7 linked regions of the Homo sapiens genome follow. The protein of the gene in region 6 interacts with the protein of the main gene of each other region in a pairwise test. Each region holds a gene or a part of one and is shown on either strand. Other genes may lie near its edges.

What was found.
Region 1: the proteins of CACNA1A (region 6) and MIA3 interact in a two-hybrid assay, tested with the Homo sapiens proteins (one study listed by BioGRID and IntAct).
Region 2: the proteins of CACNA1A (region 6) and NELL2 interact in a two-hybrid assay, tested with the Homo sapiens proteins (one study listed by BioGRID and IntAct).
Region 3: the proteins of CACNA1A (region 6) and KALRN interact in a two-hybrid assay, tested with the Homo sapiens proteins (one study listed by BioGRID and IntAct).
Region 4: the proteins of CACNA1A (region 6) and HSPG2 interact in a two-hybrid assay, tested with the Homo sapiens proteins (one study listed by BioGRID and IntAct).
Region 5: the proteins of CACNA1A (region 6) and PCSK5 interact in a two-hybrid assay, tested with the Homo sapiens proteins (one study listed by BioGRID and IntAct).
Region 7: the proteins of CACNA1A (region 6) and LLGL1 interact in a two-hybrid assay, tested with the Homo sapiens proteins (one study listed by BioGRID and IntAct).

The regions. Positions count from the first base shown.
Region 1 is NC_000001.11:222,662,643-222,666,459, reverse strand, and holds part of MIA3 (transport and Golgi organization protein 1 homolog isoform 1 precursor), read right to left. Parts: intron 2,463-3,817; coding exon 2,312-2,462; intron 1,152-2,311; coding exon 841-1,151; 3' UTR 1-840.
Region 2 is NC_000012.12:44,515,533-44,520,144, forward strand, and holds part of NELL2 (protein kinase C-binding protein NELL2 isoform b precursor), read right to left. Parts: coding exon 4,473-4,612; intron 1-4,472. UniProt on the Homo sapiens protein: Plays multiple roles in neural tissues, regulates neuronal proliferation, survival, differentiation, polarization, as well as axon guidance and synaptic functions.
Region 3 is NC_000003.12:124,718,195-124,722,806, forward strand, and holds part of KALRN (kalirin), read left to right. Parts: intron 1-730; coding exon 731-1,276; 3' UTR 1,277-4,612. UniProt on the Homo sapiens protein: Promotes the exchange of GDP by GTP. Activates specific Rho GTPase family members, thereby inducing various signaling mechanisms that regulate neuronal shape, growth, and plasticity, through their effects on the actin cytoskeleton.
Region 4 is NC_000001.11:21,930,811-21,934,790, forward strand, and holds part of HSPG2 (basement membrane-specific heparan sulfate proteoglycan core protein isoform b precursor), read right to left. Parts: intron 1-3,980. UniProt on the Homo sapiens protein: Integral component of basement membranes. Component of the glomerular basement membrane (GBM), responsible for the fixed negative electrostatic membrane charge, and which provides a barrier which is both size- and charge-selective.
Region 5 is NC_000009.12:75,896,834-75,901,445, reverse strand, and holds part of PCSK5 (proprotein convertase subtilisin/kexin type 5 isoform 3 precursor), read right to left. Parts: intron 1-4,612. UniProt on the Homo sapiens protein: Serine endoprotease that processes various proproteins by cleavage at paired basic amino acids, recognizing the RXXX[KR]R consensus motif. Likely functions in the constitutive and regulated secretory pathways.
Region 6 is NC_000019.10:13,296,371-13,300,982, forward strand, and holds part of CACNA1A (voltage-dependent P/Q-type calcium channel subunit alpha-1A), read right to left. Parts: intron 4,287-4,612; coding exon 4,180-4,286; intron 2,984-4,179; coding exon 2,174-2,983; intron 1-2,173.
Region 7 is NC_000017.11:18,234,854-18,239,465, reverse strand, and holds part of LLGL1 (lethal(2) giant larvae protein homolog 1), read right to left. Parts: coding exon 4,473-4,612; intron 4,378-4,472; coding exon 4,154-4,377; intron 3,997-4,153; coding exon 3,929-3,996; intron 2,860-3,928; coding exon 2,706-2,859; intron 2,632-2,705; coding exon 2,527-2,631; intron 1,986-2,526; coding exon 1,693-1,985; intron 1,400-1,692; coding exon 1,252-1,399; intron 1,011-1,251; coding exon 857-1,010; intron 1-856. UniProt on the Homo sapiens protein: Cortical cytoskeleton protein found in a complex involved in maintaining cell polarity and epithelial integrity. Involved in the regulation of mitotic spindle orientation, proliferation, differentiation and tissue organization of neuroepithelial cells.

The sequences.
Region 1 (3,817 bases), on a different chromosome or scaffold from region 6:
CCCTTTTTCTACAGGAATGGTAAAAACAATGGAACATCAGGTCAAACAACTCTTGCTACTAATGTAAACTCACTCTCAGAAAACCATTCTCAAATAGACAATGAGGATCGTAAAGAAAGCATGTGAATGCTATACAAGTGGGAAATAAACTTCTTTGAAATAAAAAGACGTCACTTGTAGAGTTCACAGGTGACGGAGGAGCAGCCGGAAGTGTGCCACCAGCCACCATCTTCAGTTCTGGGAGCCTGAGTTTACATGTTCCCCAAATGGCACAAGCCTCATAACAGTCCAATGAGTCAACAGACACTTGGGAAATATTAATAAACAAATTTTTATGAGCTATTACTACAAAGAACTTCAGCAAGAGGGGAGATAGTTTAGTGATCTTTTAGTAAACATTTTTAGCGTAACAGTCTTTGTGACCAGATAGTTTAAAAAAACGCTTATAAACACCATTGCTCCGTATTCAGCTGGTGTACACTAAAAATAGGATAATGGAAATACATGTTCTTAAAGCATTTCCACAGGAAATGTTCATATTTTTCATGACATTCTAAATCATTTTGCAATTACATATGCTACATTAGCTAAAACACAGGTATTCTTTATTGCACATTTCAAAGTTGTAAGGACGCTCTAGCTTAAAAGGTGATTTTTATTTAGGGAAGAAATGACATTTTTGAATTGTTTGGCTCAAAAATGCACACTGCCAAGGCAGCTTAGTTCTAACAACAAACCTTTTAAAATAAACTTTTGGATTTTGAAGCCAATGAAATCCTTTACTGTAATGGATAATGCACAGTACACTTTCTTTCCAATGAAACCTCAGAGGTCATAGTTTTATGGGCTCTGTTTTAAAGCCTGTGAACAGTCCTGGCTAGTGCTCTGAGAGGCAGGTGGAGGCTCATCTCTAGAGCCTGACGGCAGTAAGTCTCTTACAGCAGGTGGTGGTGGGTATTCCTGGGGACCATGGGTTGGGGGTGGTAATCGGGTACCAGGAATAAAGTACTCTCTTGGGCCAAGTGAACCTAAAGGTCTAAATGGTGCGTGTCCAGGTAAAAATCCCCGAGGGTGGAGAGGCAGGTCCCGTCTTCCTGGTGGAACGCCTGGTGCAAATTCTCTTAAGCCTAGTGGTGGACGCATACCAGGGCCTGGAAAACAAAAATTATTTCCAGTAAATTCCTAGGAACGTATTTAAATTAAGATAATGCCAGGTATGTTAATATAGTCTGTCATCCTTTTTTTTTTTTTTTTTTTTTTTTGGCGGCAGGGTCTTGCCTGTCACATGGGCTGGAGTGTAATGAGTGATCATGGCTCACTGCAGCCTCAATCTCCCGGACTCAATCAATCCTCCCACCTCAGACTCCCCAGTAGCTGGGACTACAGGTGCACGCCACCACTCCCAGCTAATTTTTGGATTTTTTGTAGAGATGGGGGTTTCACCATGTTGCCCAGGCTGGTCTCAAACTCCTAGGCTCAAGGGATCCACCTGCCTCAGCCTCGTCTAATGAATGCTGGGATTCATAAAGTGCTGGGATTACAGGCGTGAGCCACTGTGCCTGGCCTGCCATCTTTATCTGAAAAAGAGAGATAGATTTGTACTTGGAAGTACTATATACCATACCAAGAAGACAGACTAAATATGGCTTCATTGCAATAAAAATTTTGATAAATTCCATTAACTACTGTGTATCAGTTAAAAATTTATGCAGTAGCTCAAGATGTACCTAATAAATGCCATAAAAATTAAGGTGCTTGCCCTGCTGGAAAAGGCTTTCCAGCTCCATCTAATTAAATTCAGCAGCATTCATTAGATAGCTGTTAAATTCTACCTTCTCTTTCATATCTCCCTTCTTTGTATTCCCAAGGTGAGGGTTGAGGGTTTTGTCTTTCCTTAATATTCTGTGACCTACTGCTTATGCTTCCATTATGGGTGATTAGAAGCTTTATGTTGTAGAATGTGTATATTTGTGACCTACAGGACATCTTAGTTAGGGGATGTATTTTATCTACCTTGCTATCCATTGCAGAGCCTAGTACACAGCCACAGATGTTCAATGTGATGAATATTTCTGGCTTTTTATAAATAGCCCCTTTCCTTGTTCTATTAGAGACAACTATTGCCCATCTAATCACAGGAGATTATGTAGCACCCTTTGTGTCTGAAGAAACTTGGGGAAAAGTTACGGTGTACTCAATCAGCTTCACTGCTGCATTGCAAAGCCCCGCAATTGCAGTTGTTTTAGCAAGGGATAGATGGAGAAGATGAATGTGCTTTACAAGTCAATTACTACTGTTCAGATCATCTTACCAAAGGGTGGAGGAAGTGGCCGAGGCCCAAAAGGTCCGCAGAGCTGAGGTGGTGGTCCATATCGAATGGGTGGTGGTACAGGGCCTCCCATGGGGGTGCTCATGAGAGGGACTCCTGGGAAAGGAGGGGGCCCTTTTGGAGCCATATTAACCTGCAGAGTAGAAACAATTGAAGTTTTGAAATACTATGGTATGACAGACAAAAGCACCAACACCAGTAAAAACTAAAACCCAATGAAGCAGATGTCAGGCACTTGTCCAAAGAGCAGAATTAGTGCAAAAAACTCTACCCCTCTCATTTGTTCCCACTGACAAGCTTAGAAAGGTTAAAAGTATGCCACAGGAGTGAACACTTGCTGTATCATATTATTGCTTACATCTGCAAATGGAAGGGAACGCACAGGTTATAAATGGAGGTCATTCCTGACTAATGATAGAAGTTACGCCATTCATACATCTATTTCTAAGGCAGTCACTCCCTCTGCACATCCCTCCTATCAGAGTAATTTCCATATTAAGAATGCAGAGAATGAAAGGGAATGAAAAATCCATTCTCTACCATGTAACAGCGATTATTCAGAGTACCTTCTGTAGGCCCTACATATATTAACACAAATTCTGACATCTCTAAATCTGTAATAGGACCATCTTGTTCTAAATATGCAGGAACACAGGCGCAGAGAGTATTAGATTTGCTGATGGTCACACAGCATGTAAGAGGCTGGCTGGAATTCCATGCCAGGTTTGACTCCAAGGCCACGTTCTTTCCACCTCTGCTTCTCCTTTCTAACAAAGTAGTCTCTACACTCTTCGAAGTCTCCTACTTCAAAGGGGTCTCGGGTCTTATCCAAGCTGCTCTTGGATAAAAACATTTCTCAAGAAATGTGTATTCCTGGAGTCCTGTGCTGGAACTTGGAAGTATTTTCCAAGAGAAACAATGTTATGTACACAAATTATACAGGCACAGCTCTATTCATCTTCATTCACTAGTAATACTGTCTACTATGAGATACTGATTAATCACTTCCTATGGGAAAGTGGGTTGGAAACTCTCAATCATTAAAATTATTTTAATTTCAATGTCGAGAATCACAGTGAGGTATGATCAGAGGACTTACCAGCCATAACAGCTATACAAGTTACAAGAGAATACACTTATGTGGACACTGTTTAAGGACACTGCTGGGAACTGGCTCAACGGGTAATTATAGACTTCCACTATTCAGTATTTCACTTCCAGCAAACATTCTTCTGTTATCAATCTGTAATTTCAGATCATTCAAAATAGGGTTTGCCTAGTATACAACTGTAGGTATTCTTAAATAGCACACTTCCAAATGAAGACATAATAATGAATTACACAATTTACAATGAATTTACTTTGCCTAAGAGCATTAAACACTGAGACACACAAGAGTGGGGACTTTTCACTTTTGTTTAAGTTAATTACAGTTACAGCAGATGCTCTACACAGGTTAAATGTCTAACCAAACAGGAGAGAGGAGAA
Region 2 (4,612 bases), on a different chromosome or scaffold from region 6:
GTACTCTCTGGAGTGTTGGATATATTCTGTATTTTGATTTATCAAACTCATCAAACTATATACTTAACTGTGAATTTCACTATAATAAATATTAACTTGATAAAAATGAAAATAAAAGTGACTCACTGAAACTCAGTCTGACTACTAGGAATAATAAGCACCTACTATCAAAACTCATTATAAAAAGTAATTATTTTTATATAGTGACACAGTAAAATAAGTTTCCTTAAGACCCTGCTATTTTTGGCTATATTTATTGTTAAAGAAGTCCTTGCCACTCTTCATGCTAACCTTTGAAAATCAAGATTAGAAGACAGTCAACTTTTAATTTTCAGCTACACTTATATTTTTTAATCCTATTACTATTGATATTTCAATATGTTTTAATAGAGTCCATTTCCTTTATTTTCAAGATTTTTGTAGTTAAATAAAGTGAATATGTAATTATACATAATATTTTTTGTTTGTTTTCATTATTATCATGACCAGTACTTTTTTTTATTATACTTTAAGTTTTAGGGTACATGTGCACAACGTGCATAATATTTTTATCTTAATTTTTATTATAAGCATTGTGATTACTTCAACAGCTGAATAATAATATATGATCTTCTAATATGTAATTAGAATATATTATATAAGTATAACACATCATATAATTGCATTGTATACAAAGTTACTATAACTTATTTAACTGTTCTATTGTTGGATATTTTCGTTTCTTCCTTAATTCTGTATGACAATGTTGAGATGGATATTGGCATGTATATAGCTTGTTTTATACTTTGATTATTTCTTTAGGTTAGATTCTCAGACCTGGGATTAAAGAGAACAATATATTTGTGTGTGTATATGGGGGTGCGGATAGTATGTGTTGCATTGTGTATTTTTTAATGATATTAACAGTGCACAAAAATAATAATTCCAGTATATCTCTGTCAGCATTAGAAATTATTAGGAGAAACTTTTTTACTATAGTATGTGAAAATAATTATTTATAATTTTAGTTTACAATTAAGGTTCAATTATTTAAAGGCTCAATGATTTCCTCTTTTATTTTAGTAGGTGTACTTTTTTAGTGAGTTGTTTATTTATCCTTTGCAGATTTATTTATGGGGGAAATAATTGCTTTCCAAAAAAGTTTTAGAGGCAAGGTCTTACTTTGTCACCCAAGGTGGAGTGCAGTGGCATGATCATGGCTGACTGCAGCCTTGAACGCCTAGGCTCAAGTGGGCCTTCTGAGCAGTTGGGATTATAGGTATGAGCCTCTGCACCCAGCAGTAAGTGCTTTTCTTATTAATGTTTATGTTTTTAATCTAACAAAGAAACCAAATCTGCTGAAGCTGTTTTTCTAGTATGTAGTTGTGACTTTTTTTTTTTTTTTGCTAATTTTATGTATCTATAGAAGCACTAATCTTTTCTTTCAGGTATATTTTATCACTGATAAATTTTAAAAAGTATCTCCCTTCTAGAGTTTTGATAAATATTTAATTATATTTTCTTTATTTTAATTTATTTTAATATTTAACACTTTTTCCATGTGGAATTTGTTTTGATATGTAACATAATTTTTATAACTGTGTGTTATTTCCCTCAAATTGTTATTTAGTCATTCCATTATTTGTGAAATAATGTTTTCTTCCTCCATTGATCTGCAAAGTCCTGATCATATATTAAAAGCTTTATTATAATATTGCTTATTTATAGGTATTTTTTCCTTAGATCGAGTTATCTATTCTAATGTTAGAACAGAGGTCCACTGGCACAACTTCAAGTTTGTAGTTTTTGATAGATAAAGGCAACATTTACAAATGTCTGGTACCTACCCACCAACTACTTTCTCTCTCTCTCTCTCTCTCTCTCTCTCTCTCTCTCTCTCTCTCTCTCTCGTTCCCACTCTTGCCATGTGAAATGCCTTCCCCGAAGCAGACCATGGTACTGTTTCCTATAGACCCTGCAGAACTGTAAGCCAATTAAACCCCTTTTCTTTGTAAATTACCCAAGCTCAAGTATTTCTTTATAGCAATGCAAGAATGGCCTTACACAGTGTGCTATCTAATATGACAGCCAGTAGCCACATGTGGCTATTGTGCAGTTGAAATGTGGCTAGTGTAACTAATAAATTAAAATTTTCATATTATTTAATTTTAATTAATTAAAATTTAAATAGCCACATGTGGCTACTGACTAGCATATTGAACAACAGAGTGCCAGATAATAAGCTGATAGAGAATAATTTCCAAGGGTGACTGTGTCTGGTTTTGCTTATCATTATACACCTGGTACCAGCACAATGCCCCACACGGTGTGTATTTATCAATTAGAAACAAATAACTCAGAGGGGAGTAGAATGGAGACATAATAAATAAAATAGTGCTTTCAAAGCACTAAATTGTGAAGAATGCTTACCTCTAATGCAATACTTGAAGCTTGTTTTGCATAAACTTTATTTTCAAAATAACACAAAATAAATGTAATAAAAATGAGTACTTGAGATAAATTTGACAAAACTGAGCATATTTTTATGACTCATATTTAATAACAAGAGATAAAGAAAATAGTATTTAATAGTAACTTCTATGAATCAGTACTTATCTGACAGAAAGAAATGACTTTAATATCAAAATACACTTTCTGGAATATATTCCTATCAAAAGCTGAGAGATTATAGTAGTTGTTTATAAGGTAGTGAATGACAAACTCATTCAAATACTTTTTTTTTTTTTTTCTGAGATGGAGTCTCGCTCTGTTGCCCAGGCTGGAGGGCAGTGGCACAATCTCAGCTCACTGCAAGCTCCACCTCCCGGGTTCACGCCATTCTCCTACCTCAGCCTCCTGAGTAGCTGGGACTACAGGCACCCACCACCATGCCTGGCTAATTTTTTGTATTTTTTAGTAGAGACGGGGTTTCACCGTGTTAGCCAGGATGGTCTCGATCTCCTGACCTTGTGATCCGCCCACCTCAGCCTCCCAAAATGCTGGGATTACAGGCGTGAGCCACCGTGCCCGGCCTCATTCAAATTCTTTACCCCAGAAAACAGTCTGAGTTGTTTTCCTGCCTATTACTGTATGCATTTTTCTTACTGGAAATATCCATCTGTGCTATATTTCATTTTTGTCCATCACTCAATATATATTTTTGTCACTATTGCTCAGAAGAATAATCTCACAGAAAGATTAAGGGTGTAAGAGGACTCAACTCTATTTGGTAATTAAATGACAGAAAGTATTTCCCTGTTAGTCATTAGTGCTAAGTTTCAAGATATGCACTATTAAGTATACACATATTAAATGTATATTAAAGGAACATCGCATATACATTATTAGTAACTTTTAGTAATAGTAACTTTTAAATTTGCTAATGCATTTCATAAAACAGCAGTAAATGTTCACTCAAAAAGCTTTGCTTGATTGACAAATTGCATTGATTGAAAGAACTAGAAATTTGAGCTTGAAATAGATAAAAATGGCATCTCAAAGCTTAAAGCATTTTATATTTCTTTGTCCTGTTACTTCAATCTACTCTGGTAAGAATTTGTAGTAAGTGAATCTGAATTAAATTGCTCTGTAGGAAAAAAATTACAAAATGGAAATGCTCACTTAAAAAAATCAGAGCAGTTACAGATATCTGGCTATGTTATGCTGAGAAAAATCTGACACGTCTGCTATTTAGTTGTTACTGTTAAGCCTTCAGGTTATTTATTTAGTTTTAGTGTTGATTACAAAATTATGACTATAAAGCATAATGGCCACAAAATTAAATTTTTGTAGAAATAATAATCAAATTAGAATGCTTCCAACATTGTCACTAATCTACAAACTCTATATGCTCTGCCTATATTCATTGTATTTGTGCTCTCATTGAAGCAAAAGGCACAGAGCTCTATTTTCCAATGAGAATAAGGAGAAAGAGCTTTGTAATGGTTTTTCTCCAACTGTATGAATAAAATATGGTAAAAAACAGATCTTAAATGTTTCAACTCAATGTAACTGACCACAACAAACCAAGAAATATGCCCATCTTTGCCATATTGATTTCCACTTTGGAAAATGTAATAAATCTACTTCACTTATGTATCTTACGGACCTTGTAAAAGAACCAGCTAAAAATCAATAAAACAATATTGTCTCCTATCATGAAAGAAGAAACATGAGGTTTGTTGTTTCAGCTTTTTTAAAAGATGTGTACGGTTAGATATCTAGGACAATTTAAGTAGCTTGTTTCTATGTTGGTGATATAAATAACGGATCATTCTGGTTTTAGTCCATGCACTATCCTTGAATATACATCAGATGGATGTCCATGACAGCCCTGGAACTAACAGCTGAGTGGCATTCCGCCCACCTATGTTTGAAAAATAAACAGGAAAAAAAAAAAAAACCTTCCTATTGTCCAGGTAGAGCACATTATTATCTATGAGCCCTGGGTGCAGCTGGCAAAGTGCTCACTATTTAAATTTAATGGAGTTTACCTTGCACTGGCAGAGAGTACACTCAGTGCCATGTTTGATCCAAGAGGACCCGGTGAAGCGAACCACATTCATTTCGTCCAGGCAAGTCTTGGTGATGTCATTGCGGATGGTGTCAGCCTGGCAAGGGTCTGTGACACAGC
Region 3 (4,612 bases), on a different chromosome or scaffold from region 6:
CACTGCAACCTCTACCTCCCAGGTTCAAGCAATTCTCTGCCTCAGCCTCTTGAGTAGCTGGGATTACAGGCGCCCACCACCATGCCTGGCTAATTTTTTTGTATTTTTAGTAGAGATGGGGTTTCAACATCTTGGCTAGGATGGTCTCGAACTCCTGACCTTGCGATCCACCCGCCTTGGCCACCCAAAGTGCTGGGATTATAGGTGTGAGCCACCGTGCCCGGCCTCCCCATTATGACTATTAAAGAGAATCTGGGCTGTCACACAATTTAAGTGTATCATCCATGAATTAATGAGAATATGCCAGAGCCACAATGACATCTGGTGTGAGAGAAGGTAGGGAAGTTCTACCTACCTAATCTAACTTCATAGAAGTAAGCCAACAAACGTCACCTTCTCTTCCATGCTTCTCAAAAAGAAGCCCCTGTTCACCAAAATGAGTAATTTATTATTTCCTTGATTCAATGCAGAAGCAGTGTAGTTAAGAAAACATGATTTTCAATGTCAAACAACTTCTCTGAATTACCACCCAAACTCAAAGTGTAGTAAGCTCAAAATGATAGTTTGAAGTATCCTATGCAGTTTCCGTAGTGCATAGGGAATTTTCTGTACACCATAGGCTTTATCAAAGAATAGCATAACTGTGTTTGAATTAATGAGGTATTTTGAGTAGTCAAAATAGAGGCCTAAACTTCCCTTCTTTTCTCCCTGCTTCCTTGGATCTCTGCAGCCTGAAAACCTGCTCATTGACCTACGGATTCCAGTGCCTCGAGTGAAGCTCATTGACTTGGAGGATGCTGTCCAGATCTCGGGTCACTTCCACATTCACCACCTGCTGGGGAACCCTGAGTTTGCTGCCCCAGAAGTCATTCAAGGCATCCCCGTCTCCCTGGGGACAGACATCTGGAGCATCGGGGTTCTGACATATGTCATGCTGAGTGGGGTCTCCCCCTTCTTGGATGAGAGCAAAGAGGAGACATGTATCAACGTATGCAGGGTGGATTTCAGCTTCCCCCATGAATACTTCTGTGGTGTGAGCAATGCTGCCAGAGATTTCATCAATGTGATCTTACAGGAAGATTTTCGGAGGCGGCCCACAGCAGCCACATGCTTGCAGCATCCATGGCTGCAGCCCCATAATGGCAGCTACTCTAAGATCCCCCTGGACACCTCCCGCCTAGCATGCTTCATAGAACGTCGCAAGCACCAGAATGATGTGCGGCCTATTCCCAATGTCAAGAGCTACATTGTCAACCGGGTGAACCAAGGGACGTAGCCATCTCCCAGCCCCTATGGTTTCACATAGACGTGCAGTGTGAACCAAAGCAAGACTGAATGTGACTGTAAATAATTCTGTTCATCATTTCACTCCGTGCAGTTCTCTGAATTGAGAGATGTACCTCTTAAACCTCGTCAGTGGTTATTCAGGGTCTGAGCAGCAGTAAAAGTCACCCTAAATCAAGGGGCTTTTCAGAAGGTCATTCTGAAGAAATAAAGAGGCAAAGGGTCACAGAAGTGTTCAGAAGAAGGGCAAAGATAAGAACAATATTAGCTGTTACGAAATTTTAACTGTATCTTCCAAAATGAGTGGTTAACTGGGCAAACCTTAAGCTCACAAGAGTATAAAAGATCTCTGGCTTTGCTGAAATTTTAAGCAAGAAGTTCTATTTAATGGAGATGTCATGTATATCAACTATTCTGGTTTAGATAACTTAGATATAGTTTCTTAATAGGATAGATACCCACATACAGTATAATATATCCCATTCAGGTTTCAGAGTTTTCTAATATAGAGATATATATATTAAATCAATCACAAGTAATTTTGAGTGCTCCAGTTAAGACAGTAATTTATTTACCGAATCATTACATTGTTTTGACTAAGCACAATTAGATGACAAGTTTTTTTAGAGCATTTTATAGATCTTGTATAGAAATCTTTTACCAGAACCTGTGCATTAAGAGAAAGCAATGTTGCCCTTTTGAATGAGAAAATTTTTTCTGTCAATCGCAGGTTATTTGATTAAGATAGGTTCTTTCTGTATATGAAACGCTCCCCGCAAATTCACTGGCAGCTCAGAATTATTCTGGAAAGAAAGCCTGCCAGGAAATAAATTCAAATACAGTATGAGCTGCGGGGATATTTTTGTGTCTACACCAGGTTTGAAATAAGTAAACAAATACAAGAGGTTCATATAAAAGGGCAAATGAAAACCTTTCCTACAGTTCCTATGAACAACGTACCAACACTTTCTGATTTCTTCTACAGCTGTAGAATACCATCTTTCAGAAAGTTGGCTGGCTTTATTTCTAACTCCTTATTGAAGCTAAGGGGTGCTTACTAAAAGGAGGCAGCCATATAGGCCTTTTAAAGGCCTGGTTCTAAGTCCTTTTTAAAGCCATGGAACAAAACCTGATACATCACCCTAACAGAGCATTAAGTTGTAACTGAGATTGCAATACCTGTCACCATGCAGCCGCTGATAGTTCTCTGAACTAAAAGGACTAATTGTACTTTGAGGCCAATGCTGCTTTCTGGTGTATATTCTCCATACAAGATTATTATTAACTGCTCTTTTTCCCTCTGGTGGAAAAAAAATTAAACCTGGGCATTTCATGGGTTTTCTTTCTTTATTTTTGTTCATTTGTTTTGGAGGGAGGGAGCTTGTTTTTTGTGTTTGTACATGATCCACCCTTAGTTTTCTAGAATGTGTGTTGAAAATTGCGATTATACAAGTAAGATTTTAAAAATGTAACTCAAGTGTTTGTTCAAATCAGGTTTAATGGTGTTGCTTCTCTCCTATAATGGGATAGAGAAAATTAAAATCACGTAGTACAGAAGTGCAAGAAGAGAATTTATGAAGGATGAATAGAACTACAAACCTATCTAAATGAAAAAGAAATGGTGGAAACTAAGCCTGAACTTTAACATATAAAAAACACTTATTCCCACAGAGAAAATGTAAAATTAAAAATCATCATCTTTTTTTTTCCATTGGTTTCAAAGACAACTTCCTCATTCGCCCTCCACCTCATCCCATCCAAGATTATAGATTGATAAATTAATGGAAAGTATAAGCAATAAGACTAGATAGCACTTAGTATTTTTGGGATTAACCAAATATATGGAAACCGACTCCGACTGTATTTGTTTCTTAATTTTCAAATGGCCCTGGGTCATAAAGCCTCACTCCCTCAGAGGTCTCTCGACTAACCCCTATAGTCTTCATTTGGACCTTTATGTATTTACAAACACTCTATGATACAATACATAAAAATTTAAAACATACATTAAACATGGTTACTAAAATTTTTCAAAATGTAAAACATATTTAGTAAAAAAATTTTAGTAAACATGTTTTCATTGTGTTTAAAAAATTTAAAACATATTTACTAAAAATCCTTTTAGTAAACAGTTTACTAAAACCCTTTCAATAAACATGTCTTCATTATGGTATACAGCATAAAAGAGGAAAGCCTGAGCCGGGCGCGGCGGCTCACGCCTGTGATCCCAGCACTTTGGGAGGCCGAGGCGGGTGGATCACAAGGTCAGCAGTTCGAGACCAGCCTGACTAACATGGTGAAACCCTGTCTCCACTAAAAATACAAAAAAATCATCTGGGCGTAGTGGCGGGCACTCGTAATCCCAGCGACTTGGGAGGCTGAGGCAGGAGAATCGCTTGAAACCGGAAGGCGGAGGTTGCCGTGAGCCGAGATTGCACCACTGCACTCTAGCCTGGGCAATAAGAGCAAAATTCTGTCTCGAAAAAAAAGGAAAGCCTGGCCCATAGGGTTTGTCATGGGACAAACTGTAGGCTCTGAGGATTCCCAATATCCATAAAGTCCAGCTTGGCAAGTTCTGTTCTGTCCACTGTGGATGACCTGAATCAAGATCCCCCTGCTGAGCCATTCTGAGTTTTTATAACAAGTTGAGTTTCTGCTTGAGAAGGCCAGGGCCCAGAACAATGGTGTGCAGACCACGGCAGGTGGGGGACAAGGAGGGTATTTTTGAAATTATGTTATGGGGGCAGTTGACAGAATGTTAGACAGACCCCAAGCTTTCATATCAGCTTTTACAACAGAGTTGGGAGGATCCAGATGTGGGGTTGCATGGAATTCCCCCAAGTACACATATTTGGGAAGTGAGAAGACAGGAAAGGAGGGACCTAGAAATGAAAAGTAGGATGATTTTGTTAACTGGAGCCAAGGTACAATCATTAGACTAGAATGAACTTAATAGAGGCCCCAAGAGAAAGGGGGTATATTTTATATAGTTTGATAACGGAGGGAAACTAACAGGGAGGCTCCCTGTCTGCAAAGCTCCTGGTCCCTCCCAACAGAGATAAGAGAGTAGTCTTGGTTCAAGAGTTCTCCACAGCAAGTTGGAAATAACAAGGAATCCCAGATGATGATGATCCTGGGGAATGTACTTTAGGTTGCTCTGAGGGCAACCGTGCTTAGGGAAAAAGGATCAGGGGCCACTCTTGTTCCTGTTTTGGCGGAGAGATTTATTACTTGGTAGTAAAGAAGAGAGGAGAGAAGAGAAAATGGTCCATTTCTATCATTATGATGGTAGTTCACAGTGGGAGTGAACTTTCAGCTGAAATGGGAA
Region 4 (3,980 bases), on a different chromosome or scaffold from region 6:
TAGAAGATGCTCCACAGATATTTGTGAAATGAATTTTAAAAAACGCTTAATCACATACATCATTTGTTCATTCATTCATTCAACACACTCTGCAAGGCTTTGCGCACCAGATACTCCCCTAAAACCCAGAGCAACAGGACACCCTCCTTCATGGCTCAGGGAATGGGCCCTGGTCAGGAGCTAGGAGCTGGTCCTAAGGCTATCTCAGGATGCCACAGATGCCTCCAGGGATGCTCTGAGGTTCCTGCAGGCCTGGCACAGATGAGCATCATGGAAGGGAAGGGAGAGTGGTTCTGGGGGCAGCAAGACTCAAAGGCCTCACATTCCCAGGCCTCAAAGAGCCACCTTGTTCTCAGGGCTTTCATGACAGCACCCCCGACCCGGCCACCCCAGCAGCCACGAGCCACACCCCTCTCAAGGCTGCTATTGACACAGCCCTGACGCCACCAGGCTGGGCAGTGAGGCCGGCGGCTCCCCGCGAAGTGAGTTCCACACATACTTCTGGGTTTCAGTCAGCCAGCTCTGGGTGCTGGGGCAGCTGGCCCCGGGAGCAGGAGGGGGTGGCAGGGCCAAAGAGGCCAAGGCCCAGGCGGAAGCAACATTCCAGCAGGGCCGGGACCCTCGGCGCAGCCTCCCTCTTCTTGGCAGGAGCAGGAGCGAGAGGAGAAAAAGGCCAGGGTAGGCCCTGGGACAGGGAGAGGTAGGCCCAGCAGATACTTGGGAAGCTGCCGGGGAACCAAGTCATATTCACTTCCTCCTCCAGTCTGACCCCTCATAGCTGGGACTGGATTGGGTGAAGGGGAGGGGGGCAACAGGCCAGGGCTGGGAACCCTTCCCATATACCCCAAGTAGTCTGAGGGTGCAGAGCCCACACCTCTGGCCTCCAAGTGGCCTCTGAATCATTGCTCCAGATCTTTCCATAGCCTGGGCAGGCCCTCCTGCCCTCCCTCCTGAGCCTCTCACCCCAAGGCCAGGCAGCCCTTGAAGCTCTGCAGACTCACCCTAAACCTTGAGCCCCCAGGGAACAGCCAGAAAAAAACAGCGCAGGCTCCACACAGGACAACCAGGAGGGTGTTCTTCCCCTTCCCCCACTAGCAGCATGGCAGGGGCAGGGGCCCCTGACCTCCCACACTGGGCAGGGCCAGCCTGGCCCACTCAGGCCTAAAAGTCCCTGGATAAATTCAACTGCCTGTAGAGTCCCAGGAAATATCTGATGAGAACATTAATGAATTAACAAACCTAAAAATGACCACCCTAGAGTTCCTAGGCTTCCCCTCCAGGCACAGGCGTCCCTAGGAGACCCCACGGACACTGAGGCATACCCAACCTAAGAGCTTCTGTCCCCGAGCCAATCCCTGATATTCCTTGCCTGAGGTAGCCCCTGTACTACTTGGGACCAGAGTTCTTAATCAACATCTGTGACAAGTTGTAGCAATATCTACTGACTGCCCACGACAAGCACATGGGGCAGTACGTGGCGTGATTAGGAGAGCTTCGTCTGGATTCAAAACTTGGCTTGCAGCATCTCTGAGTGTGTGGATATGTAAGTCACTGGGCAAGTTACGTAACCTCTCAGTGCCTCAATGTCCTCTGCTTAGAGAATGGGGATCAGGCTAGTAGCTACAGCTTAAAACATTCGACAAAGATATTCACTAAGCACTTACTACCTGCCAGGTGCTAAGCATACAGCAGTGAACAAAAACAAATGAGGTCCTGCTCTCGTAGAACTTAAACTGAGCAGGAGGAAGCAGATAAACACATAAACAAATACAGACAAATACAGGCCAGACAATTGTGAGAACAAAAATAAAGCAGTTTAAGGAGACAGCCATTATGGGAAGAGTGGTAAGGACCAGAAAGAGGGAGAGGGTCATATGGATATTACGGGGACAAATGTCCCAGGCAGAAGGAACAGCAGACGCAGAGACCCTAAGGTGGGAGTGTGTTTCACATGCTCAAGAAACAAAGCCTTGGTCAGGCGAGGTGGCCCATGCCTATAATCCTAGCACTTCAGAAGGCTGAGGTGGGAGGATAGCTTGAGTTAAAGAGTTTGGGACCAGCCTGGGCAATACAACAAGATCCCATCTCTATTTGTTTTAAATTTTTATATTCATTAGAAAAGAAAAGGCTGGGTGCAGTGGCTCACGCCTATAATCCTAGCACTTTGGGAGGCCGAAGGGGGTGGATCATTTGAGCCCAGGAGTTCGAGACCTGCCTGGGGGAACATGGCAAAACCCTGTCTCTATAAAAAATACAAAAATTAGCCAGGTGTAGAGGAGGGTGTCTGTAGTCCCAGCTACTCAGGGGGCTGAGGTGGGAGGATCACCTGAGCGTGGGAGGTTGAGGCAGCGGTGAGCTGTGATTGTGCCACTGCACTCCAGCCTGGGTGACAGTGTGAGACCCTGTCTCAAAAAAAAAAAAAAGAAAAGAAAAAGAAACAAAGACTGGTATAGCTGGAGGAGTTTGAGAGGAGCAGGTGGCAGGAGGCCGGGTGTTGCAGGGCCTCGTAGGCTATATTAAGTCAGGGGCTGGGACCTAATTCTGAGCACCGCAGGGAGGTGGTGAGCAGGAAACACAGGTGAATGGGAGGATTCACTGAGAAACTCAGAGCAGACAGTGGGTACTGGGTAAGTCTGAAGTACCCGTATTACTGTGTCATCATCCAGCCTGGCACCCCAAGAGCTCCTTCCCCTCCACTTTGCTCACCCGTCTTCCGGGCCCTGAACCCAGTCACCTCCTGCCACCTTCTTTCCACCGTCTCCCGGGCAGGGCTTCAGACCCACAGATCCTAACTTGTCTGCGCTCAGCCTGAGAGCAGGCCCGGGCCAAGCCAGGCAGGGGCCACAACTCCCCAGACAGGGGGAAATGGGCCTAAGGGATGGGGGGGTGGTCCATCTCTGCCCCTTCCAGCTTCTACCCTGCAGACAGACCTGCAGCCTGCCCTCCTTCCCTCCGGGAATGTCCAGGGCACACTCAAAACCCCATCCTGTGCCGGCTGCAGGTACGGAACAAGTAGGCTAGTGTCAGGTGACAGAGCAGCTGGCTGCGTGGAGGAGGGCTGAGGGACCGCCAGGAAGGGGAGGCTCCTGCAGTTCAGCTGGCAGCCTCCCCAGTGAGGAAATCCAGCTGAGGCAGGAAACAGGTATCTCAGCGACTTCCCTCCTAGGCCCTGGAAAACACCTTAATCACCACCGAGGCTCCCTCAAGACGCCTGTCCCCTGCAGGGCCGCCCTAAAGGGGTCAGCAGGCCAAGGCCTGCCGAGTCACCCAGGCCCAGCCCCCTCCTCCAGCAAGCCTCCTCACCTCCCAACAGCTGAAATTACACCCACACTTAATCACAGATCAGCTTCCTGTGGTCCTGTCCCCCGTCCCGGGGAAGCCTGGAGCTCCCTAAGGCCCATCTCACCCTGCTGCTGTGCCCAACCCTTCCCCATAAGCCACTGGCTCCGGACCAAACTGAAGGGCAGATGAGAGCAAGGGTAGCAGGCAAAGAGGGTCCAAGGTGTGCTGGGAGCCTGGGCTAGGAATTGATCTCATTTTTGACTTGCAACAAACTCCTCAACCCCATTGTACAGATTTGGAAACTAAGGCTCAGAGAGAGGAACTCGCCCCAGATCACACAGCCAGAAACCGCAGCCCAGAGACTCATACTTGGGTCTGTAAGACTTCAGAGACAGGCCAGGCATGATGGCTTATGCCTGTCATCCCAACACTTTAGGAGACCGAGGCGAGAGGATCGCTTGAGGCCAGGAGTTTGAGACCAGCCTGGGCAACAAAGTGTGATGCCCTCTTTTTTTTTTTTTGAGACAGAGTCTTGCTCTGTCGCCCAGGCTGGAGTGCAGTGGCGCGATCTCGGCTCACTGCAAGCTCCGCCTCCCGGGTTAACGCCATTCTCCTGCCTCAGCCTCCGGAGTAGCTGGGACTACAGGTACGTGCCACCATGCCTGGCTAACTTTTTGCATTTTTAGTAGAGACAGGGT
Region 5 (4,612 bases), on a different chromosome or scaffold from region 6:
CCCTCCCTGTGTCCATGTGTTCTCACTGTTCAGCTCCCACTTATGAGTGAGAACATGTGGTGTTTGGTTTTCTGTTCCTGTGTTACTTTGCTGAGAATGATGGCTTCCAGCTTCATCCATATCCCTGCAAAGTACATGAACTCATTCTTCTTTATGGCTGCATAGTATTCCATGGTGTATATGTGCCACATTTTCTTTATCCAGTCTATAATTGATGGGCATTTGGGTTGGTTCCAAGTCTTTGCTATTGTAAATAGTGCTGCAATAAACATACGTGTTCATGTGTCTTTATGATAGAATGATTTATAATCCTTTTAAGTGACTGAGATTGAGGCCACTCTATACTTCCTTTCCTCCTCAGCGGAATTCCTCTGACTCGCCACTCGCCCTTCCTTCCTCTTTAGTCTGAGGCACCAACGTTTCTCTTCCTTTCCAGATGGACTTTTTATCCCTCTTTACTTACACCCTGCATGCCCCCTGCCCACGTGCTCACTGTGTTTCTCCTGTACCACACACTGTTCTAGGTGCTGGGGATACAATCATGAATGAGGCACTGCCCTCTCAAAAAGCTCACCAGCTAGTGGAAGGATAGGTGTGTAATTAGACACACACACACAAATTCACATACAATTGGGATGACTACATCATTTATCTTCCAAACTTGGACATGTTTGAGAGTGAATGGGGAGGTAAAAAACAAATGGGGTGAACCGATTTACTGCAGGGTAAAAAAAAAAAAAAAAGTTGTTTGTTTTTTTTTTTTTTTTGAGACAGAGTCTCGCTCCGTCACCCAGGCTGGAGTGCAGTGGCATGATCTCGGCTCACTGATGCCTCAGCCTCCCGGGCTCAAGCAACTGTCCCACCTCAGCCTCCCGGGTAGCTGCAACTACAAGCACAGACCACCACACCTGGCTAATTTTTGTATTTTTAGTAGAGACAGGGTTTCACCATGTTACCCAGGCTGGTCTTGATCTCCTGGCCTCAAGAGATCCAGCTCCCTCAGCCTCCCAAAGTGCTGGGATTACAGGCATGAGCCTCTTCACCTGGCCAAAAAAATTTTAAACAAGATATAATAACTCTCATTTACAGAGTATTTGTGTGTCAGATACTATTCTAGCTACTTTTAACTCATCCTCACAACAATTGTATGCGGGGATCACTCTTGTTATTATATCCCTTACACACATGAAGAAACTGAGGAACAGAGAGCTTAAGACACTTATCTAGGGTCCTCCAGCTAGGAAGGAGCAGTATTAGGTTTCAAACCCTTTTAATTCTAAACCTATGATCCTAACTACTCCAGCACATTGGCAAGAAAGAGATGAAGGGAGCGAATGGAGGCTGGCAGGTGGATAGAAGCAGATGTCCAATGAAAAACTGTTGTACTCCGTTTCTCTACTGCCCCACAACCTGACTTCCACTCCACTATTCAATCAAGCATTGGTGCTAAGAGCACTGGAAGCCTCCTTATCACTTTACACACATCCTCCTGGATTCTTTCTATAGCACTTCTCACTACTGCACACCATCTAAAGGAGGCACCCTTTCTTCTGGTGGCTCTCTCCATCTTCCTGGCCCCTTCATCTACTCCCGTTCTCCCTCGCTCCCTAAGTGGAGACATTCTTTTCTCTGCCTTTTCTTCTCAGTGCCCCTCTCTTCATGCTTCATCTCTTAACAATCCTAAGCCCTTCCACAAGCTTCCTTTATACTGAGGTTGATGATGAGTGCTAATTTATACTTCTTTCCCAACCTAAATGCTCTTCCACCTACTAGACATTTCTATAAGCATGTCCTTCTATCTTCTAACAAAAAGAATGCTGATGATCCCGCTTATATGTGGAATTTAGGGGAGAAAATGTTGATTACATAGAAACAGAGTGTAACAGTGACTACCGGGGTGAGGAGAGGGAGGAGGGAGATGTAGGTCAAAGGGTACAAACTCACAGTTATGTAGGATGAATTTGTCTAGAGATGGAATGTGCAGCAGGAGTACTAGGGATAAACAACATAATAATACTGTGTTGTTTATTGACTATTTGCTAAGAGACTAGATTTCAGGTGCCCTTACCACAAAAAGGAGGGGTAATTATGGAAGACAATAAATATGTAAATTTGCTTACCTGTAATAATCATTTCACTATGTATATGTATATCAAAATATCATGTTGTATACCTTAAGTATAAACTAATGCTGAGCCTATTCTTTTGTTCTCAAAATGATCCTGCAGACTGTCCTAATTCTACACAACAGTCCACCATTCTCCTGGTCCCAAGGCTAAAACTTTACAGCTATCTTCACATTCTCCCTCCTCCTCATCCCCTACTTCCATTTAGTTACCAAGCCCTATTGAATCATCCTCTACAAGAACTTCCAAATCTTTCCATTGTCATGGCTCCTGTTTCCATTACCAATAATCATTGCCAACACAATAACCACTCTGCCATTATGCATTCAGTTCATTGTGCACACTGCTACCAGCAGACTCTCCCAAGGCGTGACTGAACCATACTATACTACCCAGAAGTCCATTACTATTTGTCTTACTAAATGATAATTATAGGTGAAAATGTTCTAGCTTCTCAAGAACAGAGAATGTTTTCTGATCTGTATGTTACATGGTAGACTTGTGCTGGTAGAATCAGTGGGTTGTTGTCTCTCCTTCTCAGAGATCCTCAATATAAACTTCAATATAAACTTATCCAAAATAATAAGGTTGAAACTCTCTAGCCTAGGCATTTAGGGCCTATAAAACCTGATCTCTAGTGGGTTTTTTTTTTTTTTCTTATCCCACATCTCTTTTCTCTTATTCTAGTAACAGCATCCCACTTTCCTTTGGGGAACTGTCCCTACCCAACTGGTGGACTGCCCATCAAAGGTCAACATCTCCCTTTGAGGGAGGACATGTGACCCAAGCTCACCCATCAAAATACTGCTACCCTCCTAGACAAAGTGATTGGCCCACATGTGGGGATACGACCCCAGTCAACGATCAGGAGTCTTTTTCAGGTGTTAATTTCAATACTGGATAAGAAAGGTACTAAGCAGCATATGAACTTTGCTGCTTACTAGAAAGCACCTTCTGAGGGAAAAGGAGAAACAGCTGACATTAGCACTACCTCTGGCTTTTCAGCTGGACAGGCCCACAATCATTTTTTTGAAACTCTTGGATTTAAATATGTTTCAGAACTCAGAATTATTCAGGTGAGAATAGCACAATGAGGCACATACTTGAGTATATTACATACACCTCTGTCTGGATCAAGGACAACATCACTGCAATCAAATTCAATTCATATTTCTGCAATGAAACAAACTAAGGGCCTAATTAATGTCAGTTTAGGTCAGGGTAGGTTTTGCCATGAAGAAAGTGCAGATCAGGTAAGGTCTGATTACAAAAAGTGTTCAGCTGTTTTCAGAAAGGCATATAAAGGCATGTGAATCTGTTTAAACTAACAAATTCCCAGTACGCTTATCTGCTTGTTTGTTAGTTTTAAGCAGTTTGGGGTTGATTTTTGACACTTGTACCTGAAAAAGGTCCCATCTATATTCCTCATGGGCCTATTATGTGTCAGTTTTACTTCCCACTAGTCTTCTATACAGACTCACACTGGAGTCAAACTAAAAGACTAAGTTTTGATACTTTAAATAGAAAATCTTGCCTCGTCCCAGTGGCTCACACCTGTAATCCCTTAGGAACACCAAGGCAGGTGGATCACTTGAGATCAGGAGTTGGAGACAAGCCTGGTAACATGGTGAAACCCCGTCTCTACTAAAAATACAAAAATTAGCCAGGTGTGGTGGTGCTTGCCTGTAATCCCAGTTCCTAGGGAGGCTGAGGCAGGAGAATCACTTGTGCCTAGGAGGCAGCGGTTGCAGCGAGCTGAGATTGTGCCACTGCACTCCAGCCTGGGCCAAAAAGCAAGACTCCGTTTCGGGAAAAAAAAAAAAAAAAAAAGAAAAGAAAGAAAATCTTGCAACCTCCATAGAGTATATGTCTTATAAACAAGGGCTGTCCAACAGGAGATGGGAGCCTTAGCTGGCTGGTTTTCTTGTCAGTTGCCCCCTCCCCTGTCCTGTCTCCATGGCTCTTGGGGGAAAAGTGTAGCTATCACATCATCCTATGGGAGAATCAGGCACAACACTTATTCCTCTTCCTTTCAGCCCCCATTATATCCCCAGGGACAATCACAAGAATCTGGAAAATTACTGTATGTTGTTATTCTCTTCTGAGTGCCTGTGCATCTCTTAGGTGTCTTTAAAGATCATATAATGCTCCCTATGCCTTATTTTAGCTAATACACACTCATCTTCACTATTAGGTCACCTGATTTTCACAGCAACTCTATGAGGTGGATGGAGTAGGTATTATGGCTCCCTATCTGAAAAATGAGGAACTGAGGGTCAGGTTGGTTGATAAAAGTAAAGACCCTGGAATTTCACTCAAACCTGACTCTTAGTCTTGTTTTCTTTCCGATCTAATTTTACTCTCAGGATGAACTCAAATTGGAGAGTTTATTGGTATTGATTGTTCCTCCTTGGTACCCTTTGATGTAGAGATGGATAATCTGTTGAAACTAGTGAGAACACTCATGAGTAATTTTACTCTAAACT
Region 6 (4,612 bases):
AGGTTAATTTGTAATAGGACAATGTCTACGATGTCTATTTTAATGGGTAAGTTGTTGAGTCCCTATATGCAGAATCACTATAGCATCTGCTAGAAAGTATTACAAAATGTCGTTATGAAAAAGAGGATGCTGGTTCTGAATGGATAAGTTGCTGGCCTGGAAGATGCCTCAAAAGCTTTCTAACATTTTTATTTATTTTTAAAAGGTGAGGTCTCACTATGTTGCGCAGGCTGGTCTTGAACTCCGGGGCTCAAGTGGATCCTCCCACCTTGGCCTCCCAAAGTGCTGGGACTACAGGCATGAGCCACCACATCCCGCTGCATCCAAAGCTTTGAAACTCTGCTCTCCCTTCAATTCTAACGGCCCAAAGTGCCTTTTCTTTTTCTTTATTTTTTATTTTATTTTTTGAGACAAAGCCTTGCTCTGTCGCCCAGGCTGAAGTGCAGTGGTGCAATCATAGCTCATCATAGCCTAGACATCCTGGGCTCCAGTGACCCTCCTGCCTCAGCCTCCCAAGTAGTTGGGACTGCAGGTGCATGCCACCACATCTGTTTAATTTTTTATATTTTATAGAGATGGGGTCTGCCTCTATTGCCCAGACTGGTCTCCAACTCCTGGTATCAAGTGATCCTCCCACCTTGGCCTCCCAACAGAGTGGCTTTTCAAACTTCCAAAGAATAGCATTAGGTAAATAGAGTTGGCTGAAAATGGCCAAAAATGCTCTAAATTTACCGAGCACTTATTATGTGTCAGCTGCTCTTCCAGGCCCTTTGCATACATTACCTCATTCAATCCTGGCAATGACCCAATTAGATCCCACTATTTCCATTGTGTGAGGCCCAGAGATATGAAGTCACTTTGCAAAAGTCACACAGCAAGAACACAGAAGACTATATAATTCTGGACGACAGTGGGGCTTCTCTTAATAGTTTCCCTGAAATGCTCAAGGCCTCTGGTGCCAGAGAGCCTGGGTTCAAGGACACTGGTTAGAGGAATGACCTTGAGGAGCTCACTCAATCTCTCAGTTTCCCCATCTGTGAAGCCTCTAATCCGAACACTTTGGGAGACTGAGGTGGGATGATTGCTTGAGGCCAGGAGTTGGGGACCAGCCTGGGCAACAGAGCCAGGCCTCATTTCTACTAAAGGTAAAAAAATTAGGCTGAGTGTGGTGGCTCAACCCTGTAGTCCCAGCACTTTAGGGAGGCTAAGGCAGGCGGAATGCTTGAGTTCAGGAGTTTGAGACCAGCCTGGGAAACACAGTGAAACCCTGTCTCTACAAAACACTGTCTCTACAAAAATTAGCCAGGCATGTGGCACATGTCTGTGGTCCCAGCTACTTGTGAGGCTGAGGCGGATGGCTTGAGCCCGGGAGGTAGAGGCTGCACTGAGCTATGACTGCCACTGCACTCCAGCCTGGGCAACAGGCGAGACCCTGTGTCAAAAAAACAAAAACATACAGCATTTTTTTTTTTTTGAGACAGAGTCTTGCTCTGTTGCCCAGGCTGGAGTGTGATGGCACGATCTCAGCTCACTGCAACCTACCTCCACCTCCCAGGTTCAACTGATTCTCCCGCCTCAGCCTCCTGAGTAGTGGGAATACAGGTGGGCACCACCACTAATTTTTGTATTTTTAGTAGAGACGGGGTTTCACTATGTTGGCCAGCCTGTTCTCCAACTCCTGACCTCAAGTGATCCGCCCGCCTCGGCCTCTCAAAGTGCTGGGATTACAGGCATGAGCCACTGCTCCTGGCCAAATACAGCACTTTTTTTTTTTTTTTGAGACAGAGTCTCACTCTGTCGCCCAGGCTGGAGTGCGGTGGTGTGATCTCGGCTCATTGCAACCTCCGCCCCCTGTTTTCAGGCGATTCTCCTGCCTCAGCCTCCTGAGTAGCTGGGGCTACAGGCGCCTGCCACCGTGCCCGGCTAATTTTTGTATTTTTATTAGAGGTGGGGTTTCACCATCTTGGCCAGGCTGGTCTTGAACTCCTGACCTCGTGATCCATCCGCCTCGGCCTCCCAAAGTGCTGGGATTACAGGCGTGAGCCACTGCGCCTGGCCAAATACAGCATTTTATAATATATTTTTATAAACAAATACACAGCACGTGCTACTTTGGCTGTTGTCATTATTAATGTTACCGTCATTCTGCGGATTCGAGGTCACCTCCACTTACTTCCTCCTCCGATGCCTCCGCTCCTTGTCCTCCCTCCGCGCGTCCCCCTCGTACGTGGCTGGAGCGCCATGCCGGTGCCTTCTCCTGCGCTCGCCCCCGTCGGGGCCCTCGCCCTCGCCCTCGCCGCCCCGGGCCGGCCGGCTGCCCTCGCGGTGCCGCGCCCTCCGCTCCGCCTTGTCCTCCGGACCCTCCTCCCCGGGCCTGCGGTGCGCGCGATGACGTCGATGCTCCCCGTCCGCGCCCGTGCGCGGGGACCCGCTGCGGCTCTCCCTGCTGCCCCCCTGCCGGTGCACGTGCCTCCGGTGGGGGTCCCCGGCCTTGCCTCGCTCGGCCTCGCCCTCCCAGAACCCGGGTTGCTCCAGGCTGCCCTCCCGGGCGTGGTGGTCCGACTCGCGGCCGTAGGGTCCCTCCCGGCTCAGCTCGGCCTCCTGGCTTCCCGCCCAGGGCCTCCGTGCGTCCAGGCCCGCCGAGCCGCTGGGGTCCCGGGCCCGATCGTGGTAGCGGGCCTGTTTCCTGAGGAAGTCCTCGGCGCGCTGCTGGCCGAGGCGCTGGTCCACGGTGGGCTCGGCCGCCCGGCTCTTGTTGGTGTTGTTGTTGCGGTTCTCCTGCGGGTCCACCACCAGCGGCCGGTCCAAGTGCGTCTTCATGTCTGGCCGCAGGTGCCGCGTGTAGGCAGCCTTCCAGCGCTCGTCCGGGTCCATTTCGTTATACAGGGCCTCCCGGCTGGCCAGCAAGTTCTGCTTTCGCATCTCACTGGTCCGCTGCTCCCACACGGACTTGGCTGGCTTTTGATTCTTCTGTTGCTCTTTCCTGCAGTGGCATGGTCACAGGACTTAGAGCATTGCTAGGCACTGTAGCTTGGATGGATGACCCAGGCGAACCAACCCACATCTCAGCCTCCCACTCCTGCTCTCCACCCTCTACTCCCCACTGAATGCTAGGAGTCTGTGAGCATCTGAGTCAGGTCCCAGCCTCCTCTGCTCAAGAACCCTCCATGGCTCCCACCTGGCTAGGGGCAAAAGCCCAAGTCCTCCCCCCTGACCCAGAAGGCCCTGTGTAATCTGCTTGTCACCTCCTTGCCTTCACCTCCTCACACTTACTATTCGATTCTAGTCACACAGGCCTCCTTCACATCAGGCATGTTCCTGCCTCAGGGCCATTGCCTATGCTGTTCCCTCTGCCTGGGATGCCCTTCCCCAGGCCCCCCAGTGGCTCCTCCCTCACCTCCTTCAGGCCATGTAACCTTCTAGGTGAGCAGTCCCCAACCTTTTTGGCACCAGGGGCCAGTTTTGTGGAAGACAGTTTTTCCACAGACCTAGGTGTGGGGGGTGGTTTTGGGATGAAACTGTTTCACCTGAGATCATCAGGCATTCGATTCTTAAAAGGAGCACGCAACCTAGATCCCTCAGATGCACCGTTCACAATAGTGTTTGTGTTCCTATGAGAATCTAATGCTGCCTGCTGATCTGACGGCAGGTGGAGCTCAGGCGGTAATGCTTGCTTGCTCACTGTTCACCTCCTGCTGTGCAGCCCCGTTCCTAATAGGCCTCGGCCTGGTACCAGTCCACAGCCCCGGGACTGGGGACCCCTATTCTAGGTGATGCCTTCCCTGACAACTTCGTTTAAAATCACAACTCTCTTCACTCCCAGCATTTGCTATTTCCCTCCCCTACTTTCTCTGTAGTTCCATCGCCTTCTAACACAATATATAATTTACTTATTTATCTAATTTATTGACTCCTTCCCTTGCTAGAATGGCTACACACAGGTGGGATTTTTTTTTTCCTCCTTGTTAATGCTGTATCCCCAGAAGTTAGAACAGTGCTGGGTACATAACAGCTGCTAACCAAATATTTATTGAGTGAAAGTGGGTGGAAGGACAAGAAGTGTCTCTTCCTAAAGCTCAGTTCTGTCAAGGACCACCCCCACTGCTTCCCAAATCTGTGCCTGGGATAGTGTGGACGTTCAGGAGCCAGGGTAGCATCCCAGGGATTAGGGGCACTTACACAGCTATAGACATGTTGGCCGCGGACAGAGGACTCACTTCTGCCACCTCCTTGGCTTTCTGTAGGGCAAGTTTCTGGTTCGCTGCTTCTTCTTCCTCTTGCTCGTCCTAAAAGGCACGTGGAATCTTTGTTCACAAAACATGAACTAGGCCTTGGGGACTCACTTCTGACCCTGTTGCTGACCAGGGGCAACATTTGAAATATTTCGACCAATCAGAACCAAGGCTCCCCAATTGGAATGGGTACCTGCTATTGGTTAAGTGTATTGCTATCCCCTCTGTGTATAAGTTTGACATCTAACTCATTATGAAGCCTATTTTAACACACAGCCAGATAACAAAAAATAAAAATGTCCCTTCTCTTCCTACAATGAAGACTTTCCTGCAGCCTATTTTTTTTTCTTTTGTTTGTTTTCAGAGACAGAGTCTCCCTT
Region 7 (4,612 bases), on a different chromosome or scaffold from region 6:
TGGCTGGTGGCAGGCATGTGAGGTATGTGGGACAACTTTGCACCTCTCTATTTTTGTGTATGTTTGAAACTCTCCCATTGTACAAGTTCAAAATCAATCAGTGACTCAATCAACAAATCCAGGACCTTCCCAGGGCTCCCAGGCCACTGAGAATCAAAGCCAGGTCCTCAGCCTCTGGCCAGCAGCAGTATCTCCCTGAACCACACACCTCGACCCTCACCTGCTCCACTCCAGCCAAGTGGCTGGGCAGCTGCCCACACACATGCCCGGCTCGGGGCCTGGGCACTGGCTGGTGCCCCTCACCGTCATCCACCAGGCCTCAACCTCCCTTCTCCTGGCTCAGATCTGAGAGGCCCACCCAGCTCACTCAAAAATCCTTTACCATCCAGCTCCCCCAGAGAGACTGGGGGTGACCCAGCAGTCCCCCTGGGAGAGCTGGATGGTAAGCTTTTTTTCTGAGAAGGTCTCACTCTGTTGCACAGGCTGGAGTGCAGTGGTACGATCTCGGCTCACTGCAACCTCCGCCTCCCACGTTCAAGCAATTCTCCTGCCTCAGCCTCCCAAGTAGCTGGGATTACAGGCGCCCGCCACCACACCTGGCTAATTTTTGTATTTTTAGTAGAGACGAGGTTTCACCATGTTGGCCTGGCGGGTCTCAAACTCCTGACCTCAGGTGATCCGCCCACCTCGGCCTCCCAAAGTGCTGGGATCACTCACAGGCTTGAGCCACCGTGCCCAGCCACCTCCTGGAAGGTGCAGTCCCACCACCTCCCTTGCCACCACCCATCTCCCAGGTGGCCAATTGAGGCCAGCCCCCCCAACCCTTGCCCTGTCCCTGCCCCTGCCCCTGCCTTACCATCTCGAAGGAATGTGTCGGCAAAGTATAGGCAACGCACGACACCCGACAAGGAGTCATCGGCAGAGCGGGGCTCAATGCGGCGCTGCACGGGCGTCATCTCCACGTCGTGGGGGCAGGCCTGCTCAGCCAGCTGTGCATTGGCTTCCTGCAACTGCCGGGCGGGGGCTCCTGAACACTGTCTCCCTAGCACCCCAGTGGCTTGCATCCTGCTTTGCGCCCTACGTTCTGTTACCATTCCTCTACCACCCAGCTTAGTTCACCCATCCCTCTGGAGGGCCCAGGGGCTGCCGAGGGAGGAGCACTGAGCTAAGCAGGCCCCAGGGGTCCCAGGCCAGAGCCAGGCCAAGGCACAGGACACAGGCACAGCTCCTGTGCAGCCCACCCCAGCTCACCTTGCTGCTGGCATTAGCAGCCCGCTTCTTGCCAGAGACACGACTCTTGCGAATGCGCCGGAAAGACTGGCGCAGTGACTTCTTGAGAGACTTCACCCGGGAGAGCGGACCCTCCATGGCCAGGGAGTCATTGGGGTGAAGAGTGCACCTGGGGGAAGACAGGGTCCAGTCGTGCTATAGAGCAGCCTCCTGGGGCAGCCACCACACTCCTGCTGGCCTGTGGAGGCACCCAGGTCAGGGAGTCACAGCCCCTCTGGCGCAGTCCTATGGACCCAGCTGCAGGTGGTACTGAGAATGTCCTTCTTGGAGCTGCCAGGTTATTTCTTATAGGGCAATGGAGGTTAGTGGCCTTTGCCACACCAAACACTAGAGGTGGAAACGGAAGCCCAGACCCCATCTCGCTGGGGGCTCCAACTGCCCAGCCGGCCCCACCCCACACACCTGGCCAGCACAGGGCTCTTGCGCTGGTAGTCGAAGAGGCCAAAGCCATGACTGGTGCCAAAAGCCACGAGGCTCCACTCGGTGTGGAGTGTGACAGCGGTTACAGCAGCTGGCGGCAGGCACTGCACCAGGACACGGGGCTGGAAGCCAGCAGGCCAGGGCAGCGGCCCCGTGCGTGGGCTCAGCCGCTCGTGGCCCTTCCATGTGAAGCCCTCGCGGTCCTGGAGGAGGTCTATGATGGCCACGCTGACCGCCTGCTCCACCGGCACATCACTAAGCTCCAGTACCAGCACCTGAGCCCACAGCCAGGCAGGGGGAGCATCAGCGCAGGGGAGGGGCCGCCCTGGGCCCCACTCAGCCTGGAGCCTCTGAAGCAGCCCCAGCCACCACCAAGGTGGTTCTAGGACTGTCTTCAGTTCATCAGCTAAACAAGCACTCACTGAATGCCTACTGTATACCAAGGCCCTGGCTGAGCACAAGGAACACAGTGGTGACCAAGACACACTAGTCCCTGCCCTCTGAGGGCAAAGTGTCCACCCTTACCCTGAGCCTCTATCTCCCATTTAGCAATAAGGACACATTGAGCACCTCCTGTATGTCATGTGAGTGCCGGAGCACAGCACTGACATGAGTTCCCTCCTCTCAACACTGTGGTTCCCCCAGCGACAGGCCCACTTCCCATCTGTCCTCACCCCAGCCAGCCCCACCCAGAGCCCTATTCCCACCTTGGCTTTTGCCTGTGCCAGTCCATCTCCCTTTCCACCAGACCCTCCAGCTCATCTCTTCCAGAAAGCCCTCCCTGACATCTCCAACCCAGGGGACACCCAGCCCTACCTGGCCTGCAGTGCCAGCCACCACCATCTGGGCTGTATACTTGCAGAGAGCAACCTTCTGCACGCCAAGCCGGGGATCGTCACTGTAGGGATCGAAGCAGCCCACCTAGAGGGATGGGAAGGAGTAATGAGTCCAGGCGGGGTCAGGACCAGCTCATCAGGGCCAGGGGAGGGGCCCACCTTGCGGAAGGGTGGCCAGTCGTCCTCGGCAGCCTGGGCCAGGCTGTCAGCGTGCTCACAGTCTGTCTGGAAGAGGCCAGCTGTGCTCAGCTTATAGAGCGGCCGCAGCGCCACACCCGAGGCATCCCAGAACCTCACGGTGCCGTCCTCATGGCTGCAGGGAGGGCAGATGTCAGGGCTACCCGAGTTCCTGGGAGGCCTGCACGCCCCTCCATTCACTCATCTGATAACCACTCACTAAGCACCTACTGCACGTGCCAAACACTGACCGGAATCCTACTTTTACAAAAAACAATAGGCACCTACTGTAGACAGCACAGGTACACTGTGCACCTGTTATAGGCCAGGCCACATGCACCATATGCACCTGGAGCCTTTAAACCAAACAAGGTGGAAATGACCACCCTGATTAACAGGAGGTGGCAAAGGGGGACATGTAGAGAACAGAGGACTTTGGGGGTTCTGCCTGCACTGGAGCAGCCATCAGAGGTGATCAAGAGTAAGGCAGTCACAGAACAGAGCATGGGGCATCCCGGGGGAGGAGCTGCATGGGGCCCAAGGCAGCCACGTAGGTGGAGGAGCAGGAAGACTACAGAGGCCGGGAGAAAGCAGGGAGGGGGCAGGGGAAGGAGTAGACAAATCTAGGGCGCAGCCTTGGGACACAGCTGCAGAGTCCAAGCAGGGCCCCAGGCGGTGGTGAAAGCCCAGAGCCAGGGCGTGAGAGGTGTGTGACTGTGGGGGTGGTTGAGACTCATTCCAGCAGCCCTGAAAGCCACGGCAAGCTCTTCAGCAGGGAAGGGCACACCAGAGTCAGAGGCCTGAGGGTCCCAGCACAGGCGGGAGTGGGGGCAGGGCAGGAAGTTGAGACCTGAGTCACTGGGCACGTCAGCGCCCGCCAGGCCCACGCTGGGCTCTCTGGCACCTTCCCTGGGCAGCTCAGCGTGGGCCAGCCCAGATTTTCCAGTCCCAGGGCAGGCAGGCTGGGCGGGTGGAGCCCTGGGGTTTGGTAGAGCTCAGTTCCAGGCCAAAAGGCAGATCAGGGCAGCACCTTGAACCAAGGTCCAGGGAGGTTTCATTCCAAACCACCTTGGGCAAGGAGGAACTACCTGGTCCCACCAGGGGCCAGGCCTGAGTCTCCTGGCACCTCTGCACCCACCAGGCCCAGGATGGGCTCTCCCCCAACAGCAAGGGGCCCACTCACCCACATAAGCACGCACACCTACCCCGTCAGCAGCAGCCCTCGCTGTGACGGCTCCTGGGCCAGGTTTCGGCCCCCAGTGATGGGCCAGCTCTGGGAGGGGGTGGCAGAGATGTATGCACAAGGTTAGGACGAACATCTTCTCCCTCTCACCCCGAGTATGGCACATTCTGACCTCCGGGCTTAGAACTGAAACTCTCCCCCTCCTCAAGACTCCACCCTGTAAGACCCCCCTGATCGCCGCACACACCAAGGCACTGGAGACAGGCTGGGGGCTCTGCTGCTCGCCAGCGCTCACAATGCGGGCCCACAGCTTGGCGGGGACACTGGCCACGTGGGCCGAGCAAGTGATTGCAGAGGAGTGCAGCGGGGCCAGGTATGGGGCAGGCACAGCTGGCCAGCCAGGAGTCTGCAGGTCCAGCACCACCAGCTCCTCTTCCAGCAGCACAGCCAGGGCCTGGGGGTCATCAAATTCTGTGGGACGGAGGGAGTATGGGGTGAGCACAGCCATAGGTGGCAGAGGGCACCAGGTGGGGCTGGGAAAGGGTAGGGTACGGCAGGGCACGCACCATCCTCGGGCCGTGTGCTGTGCACTGTGAAGAAGTCGATGATGCGGGAAGTGAAGTCCAGCGTCACCAATGTCTCGGCTCGAAGCACACTTACACAGTGGCGGTCACCATAGCTGGCACGGGGCATGCCACCGCTGAAG